2 linked regions of the Homo sapiens genome follow. The protein of the gene in region 2 interacts with the protein of the main gene of each other region in a biochemical or structural test. Each region holds a gene or a part of one and is shown on either strand. Other genes may lie near its edges. The genes, in order: ERCC5 and ERCC6.

Region 1 (13,271 bases), on a different chromosome or scaffold from region 2:
AGCTACACGGAAGGCTGAGGCAGGAAGATTGCTTGGGCCCAGGCGGTCAAGGCTGCAATGAGCCGTGTTCATGTCTGTCTCTGAATAAATAAATAAAAAGGACTGTGAAAGACATTCTAGTCATGACAACCTCATATATTTATAATAAACTCGTTTATGTCAAAGGAGTATATCTGATTACTTGTTCTACAATCGGTTTTGCTTTATTTCATTTTCACGGGAATTCAGACACCTGAAATTATTTAGATTTTATTGTATTGTTTGTTAATGACAAACTTACCCGTTATTATACTAGTTTCATAATTTACTCTTGTATCTCTATACTAAATTGTTTGGTCTTTAAACCATCTATATAGCTTAGTGTCTTATTTATACAGTCTAAATGTCTGTGTCAAATAATGCAGAAGTAAGTTAAACTTTTGTCTCTTATAGATTTTAATGTTTGTAATATGCGTTTAAGTGTATTAGCAAGATATTACCATCTCTTTAGGCTATGTATACTAATGGAGATTTTTAAGTCACCTAACTAAAGAACTAAAGAAACTTATTTTTTGTATTGAAATGTTATTGGTCTTTGGGTCTTATACCGAAAGTGATTTTTGGCTTTGCTGCAGATTTTAACTTTTCTGTCCGCAGAAATTTAATTTTGCGTATATAAACTTACTGAAATTAGACAAGTCAAATTATACAAATATTTTCAGATTGTCTCATTTTTCATATTTCTTGTCTAACAATTTATGTGAATATTTTCAGGTCGTCTAATTTTACATATTTCATCTCTAAGAATTCAAGCCAAAATTCTCAACCCTAGCTGAGAATTGGCATTACCTGTAGTTAATTGAAAAATAAAAAATAAAAGAAGTCCTACCTCAGTCTCTATGATTTAGAATTTTAGGCCCATGGGGTTTAATAATCCGTATGTTTCAGAAGCTTCATATCCTATTCTAATGGATAGCAGGGATGAGAGCCACTGATCTGAAACTAGATTTCCTCACTGAAGTTAAAGTTTAAAGTAGTGGGCCAAGTAGAAACTAATTTAATCCTATGTAATAGTGAGCTTCATGGCTTTTCCAGACTATACTTGTAGCAAGCAGAAACATCGATCTAATACAAGACAGATGCACATCAACACCAAGTTCTACCTCTGAGATGTATCTTTTATCCGATCTCTTCTCGTGGTCTCCACCACTACTGTCTGCGTTAACTTGGGCTATTGTAACTCATTTTAGAACTGGTTTCCTTATAATCTGTTCTTCACATGTTCATCAAAGTTATCCTTAAATCATGTTCTAGAAACTTCCCAGTGGCCGTATCACCTCCTGCCATTCCTTTTGTCCTGCTGCACTGGCTTCCTGGAGATAGGGACCGTCTCTGTTTTGTTCATGGCTGAATTGTTTGGTGTATATCCCTAGGGTCTTGGATATGCCTGGCCCATGGTATTGCTAAATATTATAGAAATAAGCATAGCAGTAGCTTGCTTTCCACTAGGTATTTTGTTACATAGTGTTTTGTAAATTAATTGTTGATGGACCTACATTTTTTTTTATGTTAGTAAAAGTTAGGCAGTGTACATTCATTTAAATACTAAACTGTTCAACTTATTTAATAGCAGATATTTATTGTGTATAAGAGTCCCTGTGAAAGGGAGTGCAGTGCACAAATTGCCCGGGCAAGCCATGGAGCACACAGGCTGGGTTTTTTCCCTGCTAGATTATAAACTCCATAGGGCCAATACTGTGTTTTGTTCAGTGCACTGGATATGCCAGTGCATAGAAAAAATGCTGCCACATAATAAAAACAGAAATAACGTGATAGGTGGCCCCTTCAATGTTCTTTTCCTATGTTAGAAATTTACCTGCAAATATTAGCATCAGTCCAGGTTTCTCTCTGTTTTTTTTTTCTTTTTGTTTTTTTTTGAGACAGAGTCTCCCTCTGTTACGCAGGCTCGAGTGCAGTGGCGTGATCTTGGCTCACTGCAACCTTCGCCTCCCAGGTTCAATCGATTCTCCTGCCTCAGCCTTATAGGCACACGCCACCATGCCTGGCTAATTTTTGTATTTTTAGTAGAGACAGGATTTCACCATTTTGGCCAGGATGGTCTCGATCTCCTGACCTCAGGTGGTCTGCCCGCCTTGGCCTCCCAAAGTGCTGGGATTACAAGTGTGAGCTACCGCACTCGGCCTCAATATATTTTTTAAATAGGAATGTATACAAGGAGGATGTCTTCATCTAGACTGAGGAGGGGACCCCTGGACTGAGACCTTAGAGTAGGAGAGAACTAGGCGGAGAGAGGGAGAAACTGTTTCAGGCAGAGGAAGCAGCATGTGAGAAGAACCTGGAGGCAGGAAGGAGCTTAGTGATTTCTGGGTTTGAGGAAAGCCCAGTAGCAGGAAGTGAGCAGAGGCCAGATCATTCAAGGCTTCCTAGACCAGGAGAAGAAGTTTTAGATAGTATCTTGAAGGCAGTGGGAAGCTTTGGAGGGTTTTCACCAAAGATACGTTGGTGAAATCTAGTATATACCTTCAAGATACATTAGAAGATAGAATTGATAGACCTGGTAATAGCTATAGGTGGTGATGCCCAGCATTCTGGCTCAGGTGAATGGCAGGGACATTCACTGAGATGGGGGCATGAGCAGCTGAGTGGAGAAGACATGGAGTTCAGTTTTGATCATGTTAAGTTTGAAATGTCTATGAGGTATGGGGTAGAGACGTCATCTGGGCTCTCTGTTCTGGGGTCAGGAGCGTGCTCTGGGCCAGACATATACATGGAGTCAGGGCGTGGTGTATGTGGAGGGGAGTGGAGGTTGATAGTTCAGACAGGAGGAAAGAAGAGGGCCTGAGAAAGATCACTGATGAAGTGAATACTTTAACAGTGTTACAGGAGCTGGCAAAGAGTCTGAGAGCAGGAAAACCAGCAGAGCGCGGTGTCACTCTTTCTTTTGGACAAATATAACATTTTTTGAGAAGCACTTTTTAGAAAAGTTTAAAAATATAAGAAAACTTCAAGATGAAAATATAAGTTATCTTTAGTCTCAGCAGACATAATATCTACTTTAATATTTTGGTATGTGAACTAGTTTTTTATATTTAACATATATACTGTATCAGAAAATGGAGTTATACTTTATATGGTTTTATAGCCTGTTTTACTATCTTTAATAATATTTAATGACTATCTTCCTTATCACACATGCTCCTGCAACTTCCATTTTTAAGGGCTTTTTGGTATTCCAGCAAATAGGTCTGCCATAATTAGTTTTTCTTTTTTGAGACGGAGTCTTGCTCTGTCACCAGGCTGGAGTGCAGTGGCGCGATCTCGGCTCACTGCAACCTCTGCCTCCTGGGTTCAAGCGATTCTCCTGCCTCAGCCTCCTGAGTAGCTGGGACTACAGGTGCGCACCACCATGCCCAGCCAATTTTTGTATTTTTAGTAGAGATGGGGTTTCACCATGTTGGCCAGGATGGTCTCGATCTCTTGATCTCGTGATCCACCTGCCTCGGCCTCCCAAAGTGCTGGGATTACAGGTGTGAGCCACCGCGCCCGGCCTATGATTAGTTTTTTAAAAAGACCTGCTGGAAAACTTTTAAGTTGATTTTTATATTTTCATTATTATAAACAAGCATTCTGTAAATAACTCTCATTATATATCCATGATGATTTTCTGAGGATCAATGTCTGGAAGTGGTAAAATAGACTGCAAAGTTTTAAAAAGTTTTTTTCACTATGAATTGTCAAATTGTCCTCCAGAAAATTTGTGCTAATTCATGAAAATTCTTTAGCAATCACTTATTTTTTTTTAAAGAAGCAATTCTTTGCAATGAGACTTCTTAAAAGGATATGTCTGTCTTTGTATGATTTTAAAATGCAGTATGTGAATAGGGGTAACAAGAGTTCAACTAAAAGTTAACTGACTTTAGGTAGATCCCATGAGAGCTAAATGTTTTTCAATTTTAAATGAATAGTGATAAGTATTTAGTGTTCAACGTTTGGATAATATCAGTTATTAGGAAATTGAAGTTGTGAGGATGAAGAGAAAAATCCCGGAGTTTTTTCCATTAACAATTCTCCCAGATATTAGCATTTGGTTAAACCAAGCACTTAAAGGAGTCCGGGATCGCCATGGGAACTCAATAGAAAATCCTCATCTTCTCACTTTGTTTCATCGGCTCTGCAAACTCTTATTTTTTCGAATTCGTCCTATTTTTGTGTTTGATGGGGATGCTCCACTATTGAAGAAACAGACTTTGGTAAGTGTCGTATAGTTTTTAGTAAGTGTCAAATAATTTTTTTCTTTCTGCATTCTTAGAAAAATTCACATAAAATTTTTGTTTTCTCTTTAGAATTTTAGAAACAGACTTATTTTGACACATACTTAATTACATCTACTTTTTTATCTTGAACAATTAATTTTTCTTTTAAAAAGTTTTATGAGAGTTCATCATGGGTACAATGATAAAATTTAACTTTTAAATAAAACTAACTACTAAAAACCTTGCTGTTGAGAGTTTTCCCTTCAGAGGATCTTGTTAGGTGTTTTATATTTATTTCAAGGATGCGGCCATCACTCAGAACACTGTGGAAACCCTCTTTTGGGAAGTGCCTCCCTGAATCTGAGATCAAGTATCCTCCGTGATAGCAAGCCTTCTTTTAAGGGGAATTGGATTTTAGGAGTAAGCAATGTTATGTGGTGCCAAGTGGTGACTAAAGTGGATTATCTAGGAAGGAAATTGACCATGATATAGAAGAGTCAGAATGAGTTGCTGCTTTATTGTTCTGGAAGTAGTTTTAAAAAATGTTTTTGGAAGGCCGGGGGCAGGAGGATTGCTTGAGCCCAAGTCCAGCCTGGGCAACACAGGGAGACCCCATCTCTAAAAAAATGACATAAAATAATGTTTAAACAGTCCAAATGACAGCACCCATTTGGATATATGACTTTTATTTGTTGAAAATACCAAAGTAATGAAATGATGACTTTGTAATCATACCAGATACTCTCTAAATGAGGATATAGGATAAAAGTAAGGATATAGGATAAAAATAAAAAGCATTTATAAATGCTGGGGGACCTTTGTTGCCTCAGTAAGAGTGTCTAGTCTTGAATGTTGCAGTTTTCAGTTACCCAAGGCATACTGTAAATCAGGTACTTTGTGGAAGGATTAGAAAGGAAAAGAGAATATCTTGGTTATTTTTATCCGATATTCAGCCATAAGCACAGGGACTATCCATTTGTCACTACTTGAACATTTCTTACAAGATATTTCTATACATTTTAGAATTTCTCATGATATATAATCTTGAATATTGAAGGGCAGAATTACATGTAAGTAATGCATGTTTATAAAAAGCAATATTAGAAATTGTTTTTGGTGTCACTGTGACATTTTATAGAATAAATAAATAATTTCTTTTGGGAAGCATTTAAGCTTTCCACTTCTTGGGCATATTAAAAGACATTTAAAAGAAACTGAAAGTAAATTAAGTTTCCCAAATATATTGTGTAGTAGCCCATTAAGTAATAGATGGAAACTCTGGGTGTCCTTTACGTAGCAGCAACCTGAAGATATACACTGATATGGCAATTAGGAGGAAATGCTAAAGCAGCCATAGTCTGAAAACTCAGACAAACCAAATTCTCTGGAAAATAAATCACAGCAATGTTTCTAGTGGTCTAATATCCTGAAGTGAGATCTTACATCCTTTCTTCTCATAGGTGAAGAGAAGGCAGAGAAAGGACTTAGCGTCCAGTGACTCCAGGAAAACGACAGAGAAGCTTCTGAAAACATTTTTGAAAAGACAAGCCATCAAAACTGCCTTCAGAAGCAAAAGGCAAGAGGAAAATTATAGTCGTGTTAGAGATGAAGTTTTAAAAAAGTGATTTTTGTCTTGATTTCCTGCGATTCTCTTTCCCTATCTAATTTTGACTCTCAACAGAAAATAGAGAGTGAAATGAGACAAGTAGGCTGCCATTTTGACCTGGTAATTTGGAGTTGTGGCAATTCTCCGTTCTGTGAGAATCAACTTTGCTAATGAGAAAAAAAAGCTGTCGTGTTGCGTCATGTACACTTTTTACTTTGATTATGGTCTTCTTGACTCTAGGTGAGCAGCCCCGCCAAGGTTCCTTCCTTTCTCTCGGCTGCATTTATTTTCCACAGCAGTGGCCTGAGAGCAGCCAGGTCAGGTCCCTGTTCACCATCCTGAGCAGGGTCTGCATAATCTGTTTAAAGATTTGTGTACTTTCCAGAGATGAAGCACTACCCAGTCTTACCCAAGTTCGAAGAGAAAACGACCTCTATGTTTTGCCTCCTTTACAAGAGGAAGAAAAACACAGGTAAATGTTTAACTATTTAAGAATATTATTTTAGTCATTGCTACATTCAGACACATTTAAACCTTGATGTGTTATCTACATGATAAGGCATGTGAACATTTCTTAATGCATCTGAAATAGGCATGCTCTATACCTTTCAGAATATTTTTCAAAGACTAAATTTTTTATTTACTATTCTTTGTGTTTTGGTGATTCATGATTCTTATTCCTCTTCATTCTAAAGAACTTCTGCCAGGGCTGTGGATTCTAAATTCTCCAAGGCATGAATTTTAGTTTTGCTTACACTTTGCTTACACATGCTGTCTCTAGCTGCTTTTCAATCCAGTATGGTCTCTCTCACCATGATGCTAAAATACCACAACCCATGACATTCTTGTTGCTAAATCTAGCAGACGCTTTGCACGTCTTAGTGTGCTCGACTTCTCTGCACTAAACACCATGCCACACTGCCCCGCTCCCCCGGCATCTCTCTGGCGCTTTCTGCTCAGCCTCTCTGTGGACTCCTCTTCCTCTGTCTCTCTCTTAATGGTTGGTGGTTTCTGTGTTTGAAGTGAAGGTGGAGAACCGGAAGCTTGGCAGTTTGCCTTTGTCCCCTGTCCTTCCCTCCACCTCTTCCTTTCCCAGGAGTTCCCAAGAGACAACTTAGCTTTTGTATCAGCTCAGTTCTATTTGTCTCCATTGCTACCACTGTCATTTTTTCTCCAGGTTACATTATTAGCTTTTAAACTTCTTTCTGTCTTTGTCTTTGATCATACCCTTTTTGTAATAGTTCCTCCCACCAAGCCCAATCTCTGTTTTGTGTTATAGTCTGTTTAAAATCCAAATCTGATATTGTCATTTCCTTACTTAAAACACTTTCTAGCTTCTCCTTCTCATTTTTTTCTTTCTTTTTTTTTTGAGATGGAGTCTCTGTTGCCCAGACTGGAGTGCAGTGGCACAATCTCAGCTCACTGCAACCCCTGCCTCCTGGGTTTAAGCGATTCTCCTGCCTCAGCCTCCGGAGTAGCTGGGATTACAGGCACGTGCCACCACACCTGGCTAATTTTTTGTATTTTTAGTAGAGACGAGGTTTCACCATGTTGTCCAGGCTGGTCTCGAACTCCTGACCTCAAGTGATCCACCTGCCTCGGCCTCCCAAAGTGCTGGGATTGCAGGCGTGAGCCACCACACGCAGCTTAGCTTCTCATTTCTTTAGGATAAAACTTTAACTCCTTAATTACACTTTCCAGTCTTATCCCTGCCTTTCTTCACATCATCCACAGGCAGGCTTTCTTTTCCTTGTTTCTATATGGTCATACAACTTAGTTCTTTTGCCTGGAACACTCTTCTCCATGAACCTTCCCGCTCCCTACAACTACACTCATTAATTCGTGGCTAACTCCAACCAGTGTAATTGCAGGAGATCCTGGAAAGCTTTTGTGACTCCTAAATTGGGTGAGGTGACTCCCTATTGCATCTCTAGTGACCTGCCCTTCCCTTGTGGTGGAAGTTATTAGATCCCACTCTAATTGCTTACTTACACGTGTCCCCCACCAGACCATGAGACCAGTAGTGGCACAGATCTTGCTGTTTTATTCACCACTGTAGCCCGTATAACGAGCAGAGCCTTGCATACAAGTATTTTTGTAAGGGGTCCTTAAAAATCATAGATATCGTAAAAGTATGTTTGACTTTCAGTTCAGAAGAGGAAGATGAAAAAGAATGGCAAGAAAGAATGAATCAAAAACAAGCATTACAGGTATTTAGATCATTTTTGAATTCAGAATGTATTCTGTTATTTGAAATGAATGACATGAAAATGAATATTAATGAGGTATATCAAACTGTGAAAGTTCCTGATAAAAAGTAAAGACAGATGGCTTTTTGGTTGTGCATATATATGTGTACATGTATGTATTTAAAACACACTCACCTACACACGTGTATATATATATATATGGAATTTGCCATTATGCACATCTATATATTCAAAACAAGCTATTTTTCTTTTACAACCAACCAACCAATAGTAATATGTGCTTACATAGAAAATATAGAAAACATATCATTCATAAATAACTTGTAATAACAGTTTGATATATTTTCATCCATTCTTTGCCTGCCCCATATAGTTGAATATCTGTGTGTGTATTTGTATATATGTATCAAATGTGCATGTGTACATATATATGTGTACACATATGTGTGTATGTTCTAGTTATCTGTCGCTGTGTAACTTAGTGGTTAAAACATCATTTGTTATCGTCATCTGTCTGGGTTCCAGGGGTAGATGAGCTCAGACAGGCAGTTCTCTCTGGGGTCTCTTGTGTAGATGCAGCCAGTCTGTAGCTGGGGCTGGAGTGATTAACGAGGTTTCCTTGCTGCCATGGGCGGTGGTTGATGCTGGCTGTCAGCCAGTCTTCCATGCGGCCAGCACCAGAGCACCTACTTGTGGCCTCTCCACGTGGCCTGGGCATTTTCCCAGCATGATGACTGTATTCCCAGTGTGGGCATCCCAAGAGAAAGTTCTAAGCAGAAGCCCTGTTGCCTTTCTGACCTAGCTTTGGAAGTTGTGCAGCATCCTTCCCACTACATCCTGTTCCTCAGAAGCTAGTTACTGCCCTATGGAAGGGGCAGAGAGTTAGACAAGAAGAATGTCCCACACATATTTTCATGAATAACATTTTTACAAATTGAGATTATGCTGTATATATACATTTTTTTCATAAACATTTTTCAAGTTTCTTAGTGTCACAGATAGCATTTTTTGATTCCCAAATTCACTGTTTCTTGTTTGTTCATATGGTTTTGTTCTATCAGGTAGAAACTTTTGAGCTAAAACCTCGAGATCCTTCAGGTTGCGGAGGTGCTGTGCTATTAATGCAGCTAGTGAGAGCAATCTTAGTTAAGACCATGGGCCTCGTGGTCAAAAAGACCTGCGTTTCAGTCCAGGCTCCACTGTTCACTAGCTGTGTGATCTTACACAGATTAAATTCTCCAAGGCTTTATTTTTTTTTGTAAAACGAAATTGATATCAATGCCTTCCTGATGGGGGTGATGGGAGCATTAGTGAGGGAAAGCACAGGAAATGCTGAGCGCAGTGACAGGTCTGTCCTACGTGTTTGCTGGTTGGTACGTACACATGTAACATACAGACATGCAGGACATCAGGTTGTATTAGCTTATCTTTTTTACTAATGAAGGATTTTAAAGTACTTTTGGTAATGAGTTAAAGTTGAGAAAAGTTTTACACTTTTCCATGTCTTCTGTGAATTTCTTTTAATTTCATTTCTTATGTTATAAGCAAAATAAAACTAACTTAATTATGGGAATGATATATATTGCTTGAATTCCTAAGGCACATTCTGTCTTGGGTTCTTGCATTTTCTGTTCTCTCAGCCTGAAATGCTCTATCCTCAGTGAGGCTCTTTGATATCTTCCAAGTCCCTGCTCACACATCCTCTTTTTAGTGGGGTCTTCTTTATCTATCAAATAGATCTTTTTTTCCACGTTCTGTTCATGTAATCACTCTCATATCAGATAAATCTGCTTTATTTTACCATTATCTTGTTCATTTATTTATTTATTTATTGTCTTCTCTCCTCTGCTCCTAAGAGCAGGGACCTTATCTGGCACCTTATCCGATCTCACAGTACCTTAGCACCTAGAACAGTGCCTGGTGCCTTAGAGGTACCTGCTAAGTATTTTTTTCTTTTGAATGAATTAAAGAGTGAATGGCTACATTCCCTAATTTGCCTACTCACTTTGTTGCCTGTCACAGATTATATGCAACTGTGTTTAGCCAATTGTTGATTATGTAGAACTGTGTTTATTATATAAACATAATACATATCCTTAATGTTGAATAGAACTAAGTGTATGAAATGTAAATTTCATGGTGCTGTGATTTTATCTTTACAGGAAGAGTTCTTTCATAATCCTCAAGCGATAGATATTGAGTCTGAGGACTTCAGCAGCCTGCCCCCTGAAGTAAAGCATGAAATCTTGACTGATATGAAAGAGTTCACCAAGCGCAGAAGAACATTATTTGAAGCAATGCCAGAGGTGAAATATGCAACAGTACATTCATGCTTAGAATTAAGAACTTCAGCAAAACTTTTTATTAGAAAGAAGAGAAAATTGATAAGCAATACTTACACGATATCTCAGTTAACAGTAAACAGCATTTCTACATCTCAGATTCTAAGAAGCATCGTATATTTATACGTTTGAGCCTATAGACATTTACTCTAAGAAGTTTTTCTTGACTTTTGACCCGAGACTAGGTCTTTTTTCCTGGTCTTTGTTCTCACAGCACCCTGTAATATCACTTCATAGTTCTTAGTTCCAAAACACGCTTATCTTGCTCACCTCTGTATTTTCAGTGTCTAGCTCAGTATTTTTCACATGGTATGTGTCCAGTAGATGCTTACTGACTCAATTCTTAGGTTAGGTCATAAAAGTTATTGTAACCTATAATATACATTGTCTATAAAAACTAATAGTCATATAGAATCTAATCACAATGGAAAAATAAGTTCTAAATTGAAATTCCAGGTATATCTTCCTCTGCTGCAGCCCTAGAGATGCCATTGGCTCTCCACATTCCCTTGCCCTCTTCCTGGACAGTGCGAATGGGGCTTCTTCACCTTGGAACATCTTGTAGCTTGGCAGGCCCAGAAAGCTAGAGTGGAGGTGGTATGTGCAGTTGGGTGCTAGCAAATGTGTCTCCTGATCATGCTGCCATTGATACTTAATTCATGTTACTATTGATGACTCCCTGTCTTAGTTGCCAGTGAGTGAGTTCTTTTTCTCTTTCTGTTGCTGCTACCTGTTATTTCTACCGTAGTTCTCCATTCACCCACTATAGGACAGAATCGAAATTTTGCAGCATCATCGACCTTAGTGCATAGATGGAGTGTTTTTTTATTTTCTACAATTTTTGAATATTGCTTAAATTGATAGCAGAAATATGAAAAAGGAAGGGTAAATTTCTTTTCTCATCACTCCCTGTTTTTTCCACAAAGAATGTGCAGTAGCACACACTAAGGTGCACAGAAGTGACATTCTTGGGTCTTTGGATATACAAAGGACAGAAGTAAATTGATTTTTATTTCAGGAGAAAAATCCAGGCTCAGTCTGTCTATCAGGCATTTTATTTCTTGAGTATGAAAGGATCTCTGGCTGGCAGTTGAGGAAGTAGAATTTTGGTTGTGTAAACAATAACAGGAAGAAATGGGAGAAAGAGAGACAGTCCCTAATGATTTACTGTTCTTTATTTTCTTTCTGCAACCATGAAGTCTCTGGAAGTGGTGGACTGTAGGGTGGTGTGGAGTAGCAGCTTACTGGATCTGTAATTTTGATAGAGATGTTCTAAGTCATCCATGTTGGGCCTTTGTGTGATCTGTATGTCGTGCAAATGTAATATTGATAATAGTAGTGATGGTAGGTAATAATAGCAGTAGTAATAATCATAATACCATAGTTCCACTTTACTCACGGTTTGCAGTTTTCAGTGACCTGTGGTAAACTGTGGTCTGAAAATATTAAATGGAAACTTTCAGAAATAAACAATTCATAAGTTTTAAGTTGCACACCATTCTGAGTAGAGTGATGAAATCTCACACCCTCCTGCTCCATCTTGCCTGGAACGTGAATCCTCCCTTTGTCTAGCATCTCCGTGCTGTAGATGCTTCCTGCCTGTTAATCACTGAGTAGCTGTCGCGGTGATCAGATCAACTGTCGCGATATTGCAGTGCTTCTCCTCAAGTCACTCTTATTTGACTTAATGATGGCACAACAGTGCAAGAGTATGATGCTGGCAATTTGAATATGCCAAAGAGAAGCTGTAAAGTGCCTCCTTTAAATGAAAAGGTGAAAGTTCTTGAATTAATAAGGAAAGAAAAAAATCGTATTCTGGCTGAGGTTGCTTAGATCTGCATAAAAATGACTTTTCTATCTGTGATATTGTGAAGAAGCGAAAAGAAATTGGTGCTAGTTTTGCTGCCGTACCATAAACTGCAAAAGTCATGACCTCAGCGTGTGATAAGTGCTCAGTTAGGATGGAAAAGCCATTACATTTTGGGGTGGAAGACATGAAGAGAAACATGTTCTGATTGATGACAATCAGGTTTGGTACTTCTGCAGTTTCAGGCATCCTCTGGGGGTCTTGGAACATACCCCAAGGATGAGGGGGCTGTCTACTATGTTAATAGAATCAATTGTAGTAAATTGACATGCTTTTGATCCCAGATCTACCACTTATTAGCCCTGTGACTCTAGGGAGGTTACCTAACCTATTTAAGTCCCAATTTCTTCATTTATAAAATGGAGGTGATATCTGTTTCATAGGATGATTGTGAGAATAAAATGAGGTATTATATGTAAAAGCACTTAGAAAAATGCCCTCCATGGGAAATGCCTTATAATGTTAAGTATTACTGTTAATAACTGTGATTACTGTGATTTATTGTGTCTTTTATGGGATAAGGTTGTGCAGGACACTTCACTTGCATATTTACCTACATTCTAGAAGATTGTTAAGCCATAATCAGATGTCATAGTGACTGCTATGCATTACATGCTCAATACATGTTTATTGAATAATGATTAAATCATAAACAGTATTCATGATTTTTTTTTTTTTTTTTTTGAGGGGAAGTCTCGCTCTTGTCCCTCAGGCTGGAGTGCAATGGCACAATCTCGGCTCACTGCAACCTCTGCCTCCCCGGTTCAAGTGATTCTCCTGCCTCAGTCTCCTGGGTAGCTGGGATTACAGGTGCCTGCCATCACACCCGGCTAATTTTTGTATTTTTAGTAGAGACAGGGTTTCACCACGTTGGCCAGGCTGGTCTCGAACTCCTGACCTCCGGTGGTCCACCCATCTCGGCCTCCCAAAGTGCTAGGATTACAGGCATGAGCCACCGCACCTGGCCATAGTATTCATGATTTTTTTTTGCCC
Region 2 (9,515 bases):
TAATATACATTACATAAAAATTCCATACATTACTATTACTAGAGAGCCCTATGTGAGCAACTACCACTTTTCTAGGAGTAAAGGGGCCGTGAATATTCCCAGCAGACAGGCATGCCTGCACCCCCATGCTCTCCTGAGGACGGCAGACTGCCTTCTATGTGCCCGAGCCCTTAAATACATGGGCACTGACCTGAAAGGTGGACTTGTTCTACTTGGTTTCCCCCTTACACACTGGGCAAATCCCTAAACTACTCTGTATTTCTGATTCAGAACCAATGGGCTATGGAAGTCAACAGGCCATAAGATAAGAAATAAAAACACAAATGTTCAATTGAAAAAGTTAGTCTCCTTTGATAACCTACTATATTTATGACTGTCCTTTTAGTATTCTACCTAATCAAAAAGCTTTAAGAAAAAAATATATCTTGCCATGCCTCTCCACCCTGGCCACGCCAGACTCCTCTTTGTCTTGTTCCCTTCCACATCACCAGAACTCAGATATGTGCCCTTGGGCTTCACTGGGGAGGCCCAATGAACTGGGCTTGTGGTACCTGGTTCATCTTTCCAAGGTCAAGAATGTTTCAACTTCAAATACGAGTGTGGGACAAGGGGAAATCCTGAACATAAATGCCACACTGCAATGACTTGCAATTTGTTTTTTCTCAGTTTTTCTCTCAGCAACATTCTGTCTAAAGCACTTTCCCTCTGAATAGTCTACCTCTAACCATCAAAGAGCTGCTAAAGACAAGAATGCATAATTAAGTTAGACTAGGACCTGAAGTGGTCTCAAGTTTGATGCTCTACACCCTTGAAATTCCAGCCCACTAGAAGCCCAAGAAGGTCTCTGCACATCAATTTCACATGCTCCCACAAGAGACCAGATGTCCTCTCTCTGATTTGGGAGGACCCACCTGCCTTGGGCAACTGCTAGCTTTGACCTTTGGGCTGCTATTCTGGAAGCAAGTGAGAGAAGATGGGGTAGTGCAGGTAACAGACTGGTGAGTGGAAAGTATAATAAAAGGAGGGCCACGTGAACTGAACCAACGCACAGCCCTGCCCCTGGAGAGCTTAAAGAAAAGATGCAAGGACTCTACTCACTGCAGTGAATCAACTGTAAGCACAAGTTGGGATGGCAGAACTGAAATGGTTACAGCTAGTCATTCCTATCTATTGCAATGTATTTTCACAAAGGGGTACATAAATCATAAAAAATGTTTCAGACCTCACAAAGCTGTACATAAATCCTTAAAAAAAGTTTCAAACTTCATAAAAATAATATCCTAAGTAACAAATATTCCCTACCCTTAAGTTTTCCAAAGCTAAGTACAACCCCAGTGTGGCTGGGTGCTGACTGTAACACCCAAGGTGGGAGGAAGGGCCAAGCTCTCGCAACTGTCAGCAAAGGTGTGTGAGGGTCAATGGCTGCACCACCAAGAAACAGAGTGGAGACAATTAGAGGAAGCAAGGGCTAAGCAGAAAAGAGTTCACAGGAGACCAGGAGACTGAGGCCAGTGTGACCCTAAGCCAGGCCAAAGAAATGGTGATGCAGGAAAACTAAGGAAGTGCGCCCAAGTGAGGCAAGCAACACCAAAAAGGAACTTTTCTCAAATACACAGATGGTCTCCAACTTATCATGGTCTGACTTGCAATTTTTCAACTTTGTGATGGGTTTATCAGGGCATAACCCCATTATAAACTGAGGAGCCTCTGGACTTAACTATGGTTTGACTTACAATATTTTGACTTTAAGATAGGTTTTTCAGTGTATTTAATGCATTTTTGACTAACAATATTTTCAATTTACGATGGGTTTGTCGGGATGTAACCCTGTTGTAAATCAAGGAGCAACTGTATACGTATGGATGTGTGTGTCTATGTATGTGTGTTTTTTTAAATGCAATAGAATGGGATGTTAAAGGAAAACAGCAGAAAGATTAAACATACAAAAGAAACCCAAAATTTCTCTATTGTAATTATAAGTATTTGCTTCACATCTTATAAGCACTTTTTAAAATACTTCCTAAATTAAGTGCCCCTAAATGATGACTTTTTCAAAAATGCAATACTGAATGTTATTCTGAATCACCTTATTATACTTCTGTCGTTTTACAGAATCTAGTTTCCTGTTGATGTCTCTGCTGGTGGCAGCTTGAGGGCTAAGCTGTTCAATAATTTTATTGATTTGCCTTAGGGATGTCGTACATGACCTGAAAAATAAGATAAATTGTCTATTTTGCACTCTGATAACATTTTTATAGCATAATATAAAGAGAAAAATGCTAAAAACATGTCCCTTTTACTTCTTATTAACTAAAAGATAAAGGAAACTAAACCAGAATACATACCCTTATTGGCCACAAATAAAACTTGTAGGATCATTAGAGGTTTAAGATGACTGCTAGTGTTTTCTTTTATCTAGCTGATTTAGATCAGCTCATTCCCATTTGTAAGCTGCTTCAGTCATTCTACAAGCATTATTTAAGTGCCTACTTTATTCAACACACTATGCTAGAACAATGTGCAATAAGTTGTCCTTTTACATGAAAAAATGCATACATGGGTTTTTTAAGCCCGTTACGGAAGCCTTCCAAAGTCTGGAAGCATCCTAAATATGCTTAAACATTTTTTTATATAAATCACACATCTGCGACAATATTTTTCTTCTACATAAATGGAAGATTCACTTACTACAGCACTAAACTTTGTGGTGCAAAGAAAACAAATCAATTTAAAATAAATTACTCCTAAAATAGACACCATAGAATTGTAGCTTCCAATTTTCAAAACACAAATTCAATCTTCTTGATGATTGTGTAATTTGCTGTTTGTATCCTCTGTGGATTACAGGATAAACAATGCGTATTACTGGCTGAGACACCACATGCCACCAGCCATCTAGCATCACTCTGCATGGAGACCCCACAACTCTCCTCTGTCACCTCTGGAGAAAGAGGACACATTTCCAAGATCAAATGTAAAAGTATCATTACAAAGAGTTGAGGTCCTCAACACTCAGACTATAACCATGAACGAGCACCTGCTCCTGAGGAGGCCAAAAGAACACACCAGGGAATGGTTAGCAGAAAACATGTCTTTGAAGTACCAACAACCACATTCATGACAGCGCCACACTCCACCCTCCCCAGCTATCCTCTGTGACACTGCTCCATCCTCCATCCCGTTCAGCCCTCGCCTTCTTTCTTGCTTACCTGACACTGCCCAGAACACTGCCCAACGGGGGCCAAGCAGCAATGATAAGTGAGCTCAACCCCTCCCACTTCCCCTCTCCTGTCCTCACCTCCTACCCTTGCTCAGGTCTACAGCCTCCCCTTCTTCCCCATTAACGTGCTATGCTCAAAACAGCTCAAGTCTTCTCCCTCTCTAAGACACAAATAAAATCTCCATTTCCAGAGTCAGAACAAGGATGGAAGAAAAGAAAACCGGGGAGTCTTTATTATTTCTAAAAATGCAAATCTGAAAAATTGCCCAAGGACTGAACACTAAGTTTGGGGACAGTAAGCTAGAAAGAAGCTACCGCACAGAGAAAAATGTGAAGGGGGCGCAATGTATTCCTGGCATCTCGAATAGGAAACACCTGAATTTAGGTGCACCTCTCCTGAGATCACTTTGTGCACATGCTGGTGAACAGCCCTTCTCTTCTGGACATTATGCATGCAACTGGCTTTCACGAGCTGGACAGAGACTCTAACTACCATGTACAATGCCACTCCTAAGGGGAAGGGCTGGGACTCAAAGATGAGGTTGAGGACTGCCCTTATTGACTCTGTCCTCCAAATAAAAGGTTCTACACATCTCCTAAACTTCTGGAATACTAGAGCTTTCCATTACCTGAATATCCCTGTCATGTTTTACCACCACTTTGAAAGGAAGAAGATGGGCTGCACTCACGTGAGGTCATCCAGGACCGACCGATACTCCTTCTCCACGTCAACGAGCTGGGAGGCACGGCTGGCCTCATGGATGGCATTGTCCACCTGCTGAAGCACTCCCTGTTCCAGCACGTCCTGGTCATAGACGTCCACACCCAAACCCTGCAGCTCAAGGGCCTGGGCGCTAGGCTCTACTGCCTGGATCTGATGTCGGTCGATGTGCAGCAGGGCTGGCCCTCTCCTCGGAGCTGCTGATGCGCACCCCACAGCAGAGGTGGACAGCCCGTCACCCACAGAACGAAAGGAGAGGTACTCCTCCACCTCCCCATCACCACCACTTTCTTGCTTGATTGCCATTTCTTCATTATTACTGACAGGTTGACTCTGTAAACAGTCTTGCTCCTGAGTTTGACTTGAGTGGGGGATTCCCTCATTTGGCATTCTCTACAGACTACCTAAAAGGAAAAAAATTTATAAGCCTTTTCGTTATATAGGATTCATTGTAGTTCTTAAATATTTTATAATTAGAGCAGACTGATTTCTCAAAAGATCAAGTAATAATCTTCCAACTACATAAATTCAAGTTTCCAAGTATTAATTTACTAAAAAGGGACAACGTATCTTCTTGAGTTCTGATAATAAATAAGAAAAATTAACCAGAAAAAGAAATGCAGTATCATCAACAAAGGACATTTAGGCAGCCAGCTAAGAAAGCCAGCCACCAAAATCCTGGGGTGATGGCCATGGAATATTCTTCAAAACAGCTGAAGTCATTTGGCTGCTGTTTTCCAAGTTAGCATCTTCATTTCATTATGACACAAATGATTTATAATATAGTGGCAAGATCAACTGTAATGCATAGGAACAGCGATGTTAGGAAAGAGCTTCTGTGTGAATCTGAGACTAGAAACTCCTAGGCTGAATACCTATCCAGTAAATAGGAGCTTTGAACAAATCAGAAGCTCAGAAGATTAATTAGGCCAGGCACGTGGCTCAGTCCTGTAATCCCAGCACTTTGGGAGGCCAAAGCGGGAGGATAGAGACCAGCCAGGGAAACACAGCGAGCTCAGGACTTCGAGACCAGCCTGGGAAAGATAATGAGACCTTGTCTCTACTAAAAATTTAAAACCTTAGCCAGGCCTGGTGATGTGCACCTATAGTCCCAGTTACTCAAGGGGCTGAGGCAGGAGGATCACTTGAGCCTGGGAGATGGAGGCTGCAGTGAGCCATGATTGCACAACTGCACTCTAGCCTGGGCAAAAGAGCAAGACCTTGTAAAATAAATTTAAAGTTTTTTTAAAAGATTAATTAAAATATTCTCAAAAATAGGCTGGGCACGATGGCTCACATCTGTAATCCCAACACTTTGGGAGGCTGAAGCGGGCAGATTACTTAAGGTCAGGTGTTTGAGACCAGCCTGGCAAACATGGTGAAACCCGATCTCTACTAAAAATACAATAATTGGCTGGGTATGATGGTGAGCACCTGTAATCCCAGCCACTCGGGAGGCTGAAGCAGGAGAATCACTTGAACCCAGGAGGCGGAGGTTGCAGTGAGATGAGATCTCACCACTGCATTCCAGCATAGGCAACAGAGTGAGACTCAATCTCAAAAAAAAAAAAAAAAAAAAACAAAAAAAAAACTCCATTTTAATACACAGTATAATTTCTCACCCATCAGGTTAGCAAGAATTCAAAGCCTGATAGATAAATCCAATACAGACAAGGAGAAGGATCCCCCCTCACATAGTGCTGCTGAGAATATAAATTAGTAAAGCCCCTTGTAGGGACAACTTAGCAATATCTATTAAATTAAAGGCACATGACCTTTGTCAAGCAATTCTAGGTATTTATTCCAGAGAACTAGTCACACACAGGTGCAAGAATGTTTAGTGCAGCACATTTTTAATAGTTTAATGTAACTACTAAGTATATTCTGTATACTGATATAAAAGCCATGTTAAGTGAAAAAATTCATGGTATGAACACACTTATGCTGAAAAAAGTATCTATCCTGCACACAGAATGATCTGGCAGGATACAAACTAAGCCTGCAAATCAGGATGGGGAAGAGAAAGCACAGGGAAAAATAAGGGGGAATGTTCACATTGTACTCCACATACTCAGGACCTGCTGCTTTAAGGAGAATATATTCACTATATTACCTATACAACTATCACATCTAATAAATATATTAAAAAGCAAAACGATAACCAAAAATCAGTCTTGCTTTTTGTTTAACTGTGAATAAGATTTCTTTGAGCACTGTAACTTTTCTGTTAAATGACAAGTTCCCCCAGTGGGCCCCACTCATCCCTTATTAAGTAAAATAAGCCCAGCAATAAAGCACCGGGATACAAAGAATTCAGCATCATCTACACCCGAGTGGCTATCCACTGGAGCAGCAGCATGTCAGTTAACAACAGAGCAGGGCAGGTCAGCTAGCCCGGGACACGGACAAGAGGTCACACGAGCATCGAGCGAACTATATATGGTGTCTGGGGCCCAAGAAATATCACGGAGGAACTGAGATTTGAACACATGGGCCATGCATGGTCTGATATATAGGAGGTGCTCAATATCTGCTGAAAGGAAGTGAGGTTCAGAGCTAAGTCTAAAATAATAAAAAGTTTGGTCTGGACAAATGAGTCACCAGTGAATTCAGTCACAAAAATGAGACTCTCAAAAAGGAAGCAGATAGGAAGCAGGACTGGCAAGCAGCTTACATGTAATCAGTACCATTTGCAGCATGCAGTCAGAAATGCAAATCTGAGCTCAAGGGAAAGTCTGGGTGACATGTGGACACATCAGCAGAGTGAGCAGTTCCAGGGTTCCCAAGGCTCTGACAGGTACCTAAGGTCATTTTGGAGGGTACGAGGAGGCTAACATTGGAAAGGTTAAAAAGTGAACAACACAGTGAGAAAGTTCCTTCTTTTGGGGCCTGCTGATTATTTTCAAGAGGAAGGCTCAGCTCACCTCACTTTCCAACAGAGAGAGCAGGATTCCAGCTCAGAGTGTCTGTACTAGCTGGCAGTTAACAATTCTGTTTTCATTTTTCTTATTTGTACACACATGAGGATTTCTTTTTAAGAAAAAAGGATGCCAATTCAACCAAAAATATTAAGTAACCATTTTTCTATTTCTGTAAAATAATATCAAAAAGCAATAGTATTGTAGTGTAAAGACAAGGTTAAAAATAAAGAAGTTTGGGGAAAACTTCTAATAATAAAAAAGGAGGAAGAGCGTCCAGTGAATGAGAAAAGGCTGAGTGAATTTGGATACCAATGGGTCACCATTTACCTTGGTAAAAGAAGTTTCAGGCCAGGCTTGGTGGCTCACACCTGTAATCCCAGCACTTTGGGAGGCCAAGGCGGGTGGATCACCTGAGTTCGTGACCAGCCTGACCCAACATGGTGAAACCCCATCTCTACTAAAATACAAAAATTAGCCAGGCGTGGTGGTGCATGCCTGTAATCCCAGCTACTCGGGAGGCTGAGGCACGAGAATCGCTTGAACCCAGGAGGCAGAGGTTGCAGTGAGCTGAGATCACACCGCAGAACTCCAGCCTGGGCAACAAGAGTGAAACTCTGTCTCGAAAAAATAAAAAAGTTTCAGTGGAGCGATAGGGCCAAAAACCAGACTGTAGTGGTTGAAATGTAGTTGGTGTGTAAGGAGTGGATGAGGAAATGGAGGCCACAAGAGAGTGGCCTGTCCTTTAAAGAGCTTGCCTCTGGCAGGGAGACAGCTACAGTGATAAAGTAATAATGGATTTGTTGGGGGTAGGGAGAGAACTAGGGCAAGAAAAACTAGAGCACGTAATGGCTGGAGGGAGACAGAGGAGATAACCCAGAAAGGTGTACCAAAAGAGACAGCAAAAGTGGAAGGTCGCAAGCAGAAATGAACAGGAGGCACAACACATCTTTCTCGGACTCTGGCAGAAGGAGGATTCCTGATAGATCTAAATTTGCAGGTGGAAAGGAGGGAAGCTGAAGTGGATTACAGACAAAATATCCCACAAAGCAGCAAGTTGGGCAGTTCCTGAGTCAGGAGACAAAGTTGGCACTGGGGCTAAAGACTAAGAGTCTGGAATAAATGTCCTGTACAAGAGAAAAGGGAGTTGACAGGGAACAAACACTGATGATTGCTGTGGAGGACCTACCTGAGGATCTCCCCAGCCCTGCAAAGCCATAGACTGCTAACAATCTCCAGGGCTGAACAATCTCCTCCTTCAGTAGTCCTGGGGGAAATGTCACTATTGAGGGTTTTCAGAGCAGAAATGGTAGCGCAAAAGAGTCACGGGGTTGAAGATGCTGAGAAGAGTAGCTGAAGCAACTGACTTCAGGGTCCAAGCTGGGTAGGTTTAAAAAAACAAAAACAAACAAACAAAAAAACAGAAGGGGCCTGGAAATGGGAGAAAGGGTTCAAGAAGTCACTTAGTATCTGGCAATGGCCAGAAAACCAAGTCTTCTGGAAGTGAGAGTTGGAAACCAGAAGGCTCTTATCAGGTTAAAGAATTTCAGAAGTGAAATAAATCATACATTTGCCGGGAGCGGTGGCTCATGCCTGTAATCCCAGCACTTTGGGAGGCCGAGGCGGGAGGATCACGAGGTCAGAAGTTCGAGACCAGCCTGACCAACATAGTGAAACCCCGTCTCTACTAAAAATGCAAAAATTAGCTGGGCATGGAGGCGCGCGCCTGTAATCCCAGCTACTCGAGAGGCTGGGGCAGGAGAATCGCTTGAACCCAGGAGGCGGAGGCCGCAGTGAGCGAGATCGCACCACTGCACTCCAGCCTGGGCGACAGGGCAAGACTCCGTCTCAAAAAAAAAAAAAAAAAGAAAGAAAGAAATCATACATTTAACAAATAGTTACTGAGAGTTAATTACACCAGGCAATGTACTAGGTTAACTAATTCCTGTCCCCAAAGAGCTTAGAGTCTCATGGGAAAAACAGACATTTAAAAACTATATATATATATATACACATACACACACACACACACACACACACACAAATATAATTGTGGTGACTGCTGTTAAGAGGAAAGTACAAGGCTTTCTGACAAAATGAGAGAAACCAAATTGAAATTGTGGAGGTAGATGTGGGGTCAAGGAGGCCTCTCTGATAAAGTGACATCTGATAAGTCAGTCAGGTCGAAAGTAAAGTGAACGTCTTGCAAGGAAACAACGTGTGAAATTTTTTTTTTTTTTGAGACGGAATTTCGCTCCGGTTGCCCAGGCTGGAGTGCAACCTCCGCCAGGCTCCGCCAGGCTCACTGCAACCTCCGCCTTCCGGGTTCAAGCGATTCTCCTGCCTTGGCCTCCCGATTAGCTGGGATTACAGGCATATGCCATCATGCCCGGCTAATTTTTCGTATTTAGTAAAGACAGGGTTTCACCACGTTGGTAAGGCTGGTCTCGAACTCCTGACCTCGGGTGATCCACCCACCTCGGCCTCCCAACAACGTGCGTAACTTTTAAGACTAGAAAGAGCTGATGCACTTGTGAAAATGCAAGAAGGCTGGAACACCGAATTTTTGACTTTATTTTTAACTTTGAGTTAAGAAGAGCAGAGAAGGGCTCCGTTCATGGCCTAAGTCTTGCAGAGTATCTTCTAAGGCTTAATC

The links.
Region 1: the proteins of ERCC6 (region 2) and ERCC5 interact in far-western blotting, tested with the Homo sapiens proteins (one study listed by BioGRID).

What each region holds. Positions count from the first base shown.
Region 1 is NC_000013.11:102,848,044-102,861,314, forward strand, and holds part of ERCC5 (DNA excision repair protein ERCC-5), read left to right. Parts: intron 1-4,074; coding exon 4,075-4,250; intron 4,251-5,713; coding exon 5,714-5,829; intron 5,830-6,244; coding exon 6,245-6,331; intron 6,332-8,008; coding exon 8,009-8,069; intron 8,070-10,231; coding exon 10,232-10,375; intron 10,376-13,271. Other genes in the region: BIVM-ERCC5 protein, read left to right, coding at 4,075-4,250, 5,714-5,829, 6,245-6,331, 8,009-8,069, 10,232-10,375. UniProt on the Homo sapiens protein: Single-stranded structure-specific DNA endonuclease involved in DNA excision repair. Makes the 3'incision in DNA nucleotide excision repair (NER).
Region 2 is NC_000010.11:49,528,634-49,538,148, forward strand, and holds part of ERCC6 (DNA excision repair protein ERCC-6), read right to left. Parts: intron 4,346-9,515; 5' UTR 4,332-4,345; coding exon 3,910-4,331; intron 2,208-3,909; coding exon 2,087-2,207; intron 1-2,086. UniProt on the Homo sapiens protein: Involved in repair of DNA damage following UV irradiation, acting either in the absence of ERCC6 or synergistically with ERCC6. Involved in the regulation of gene expression.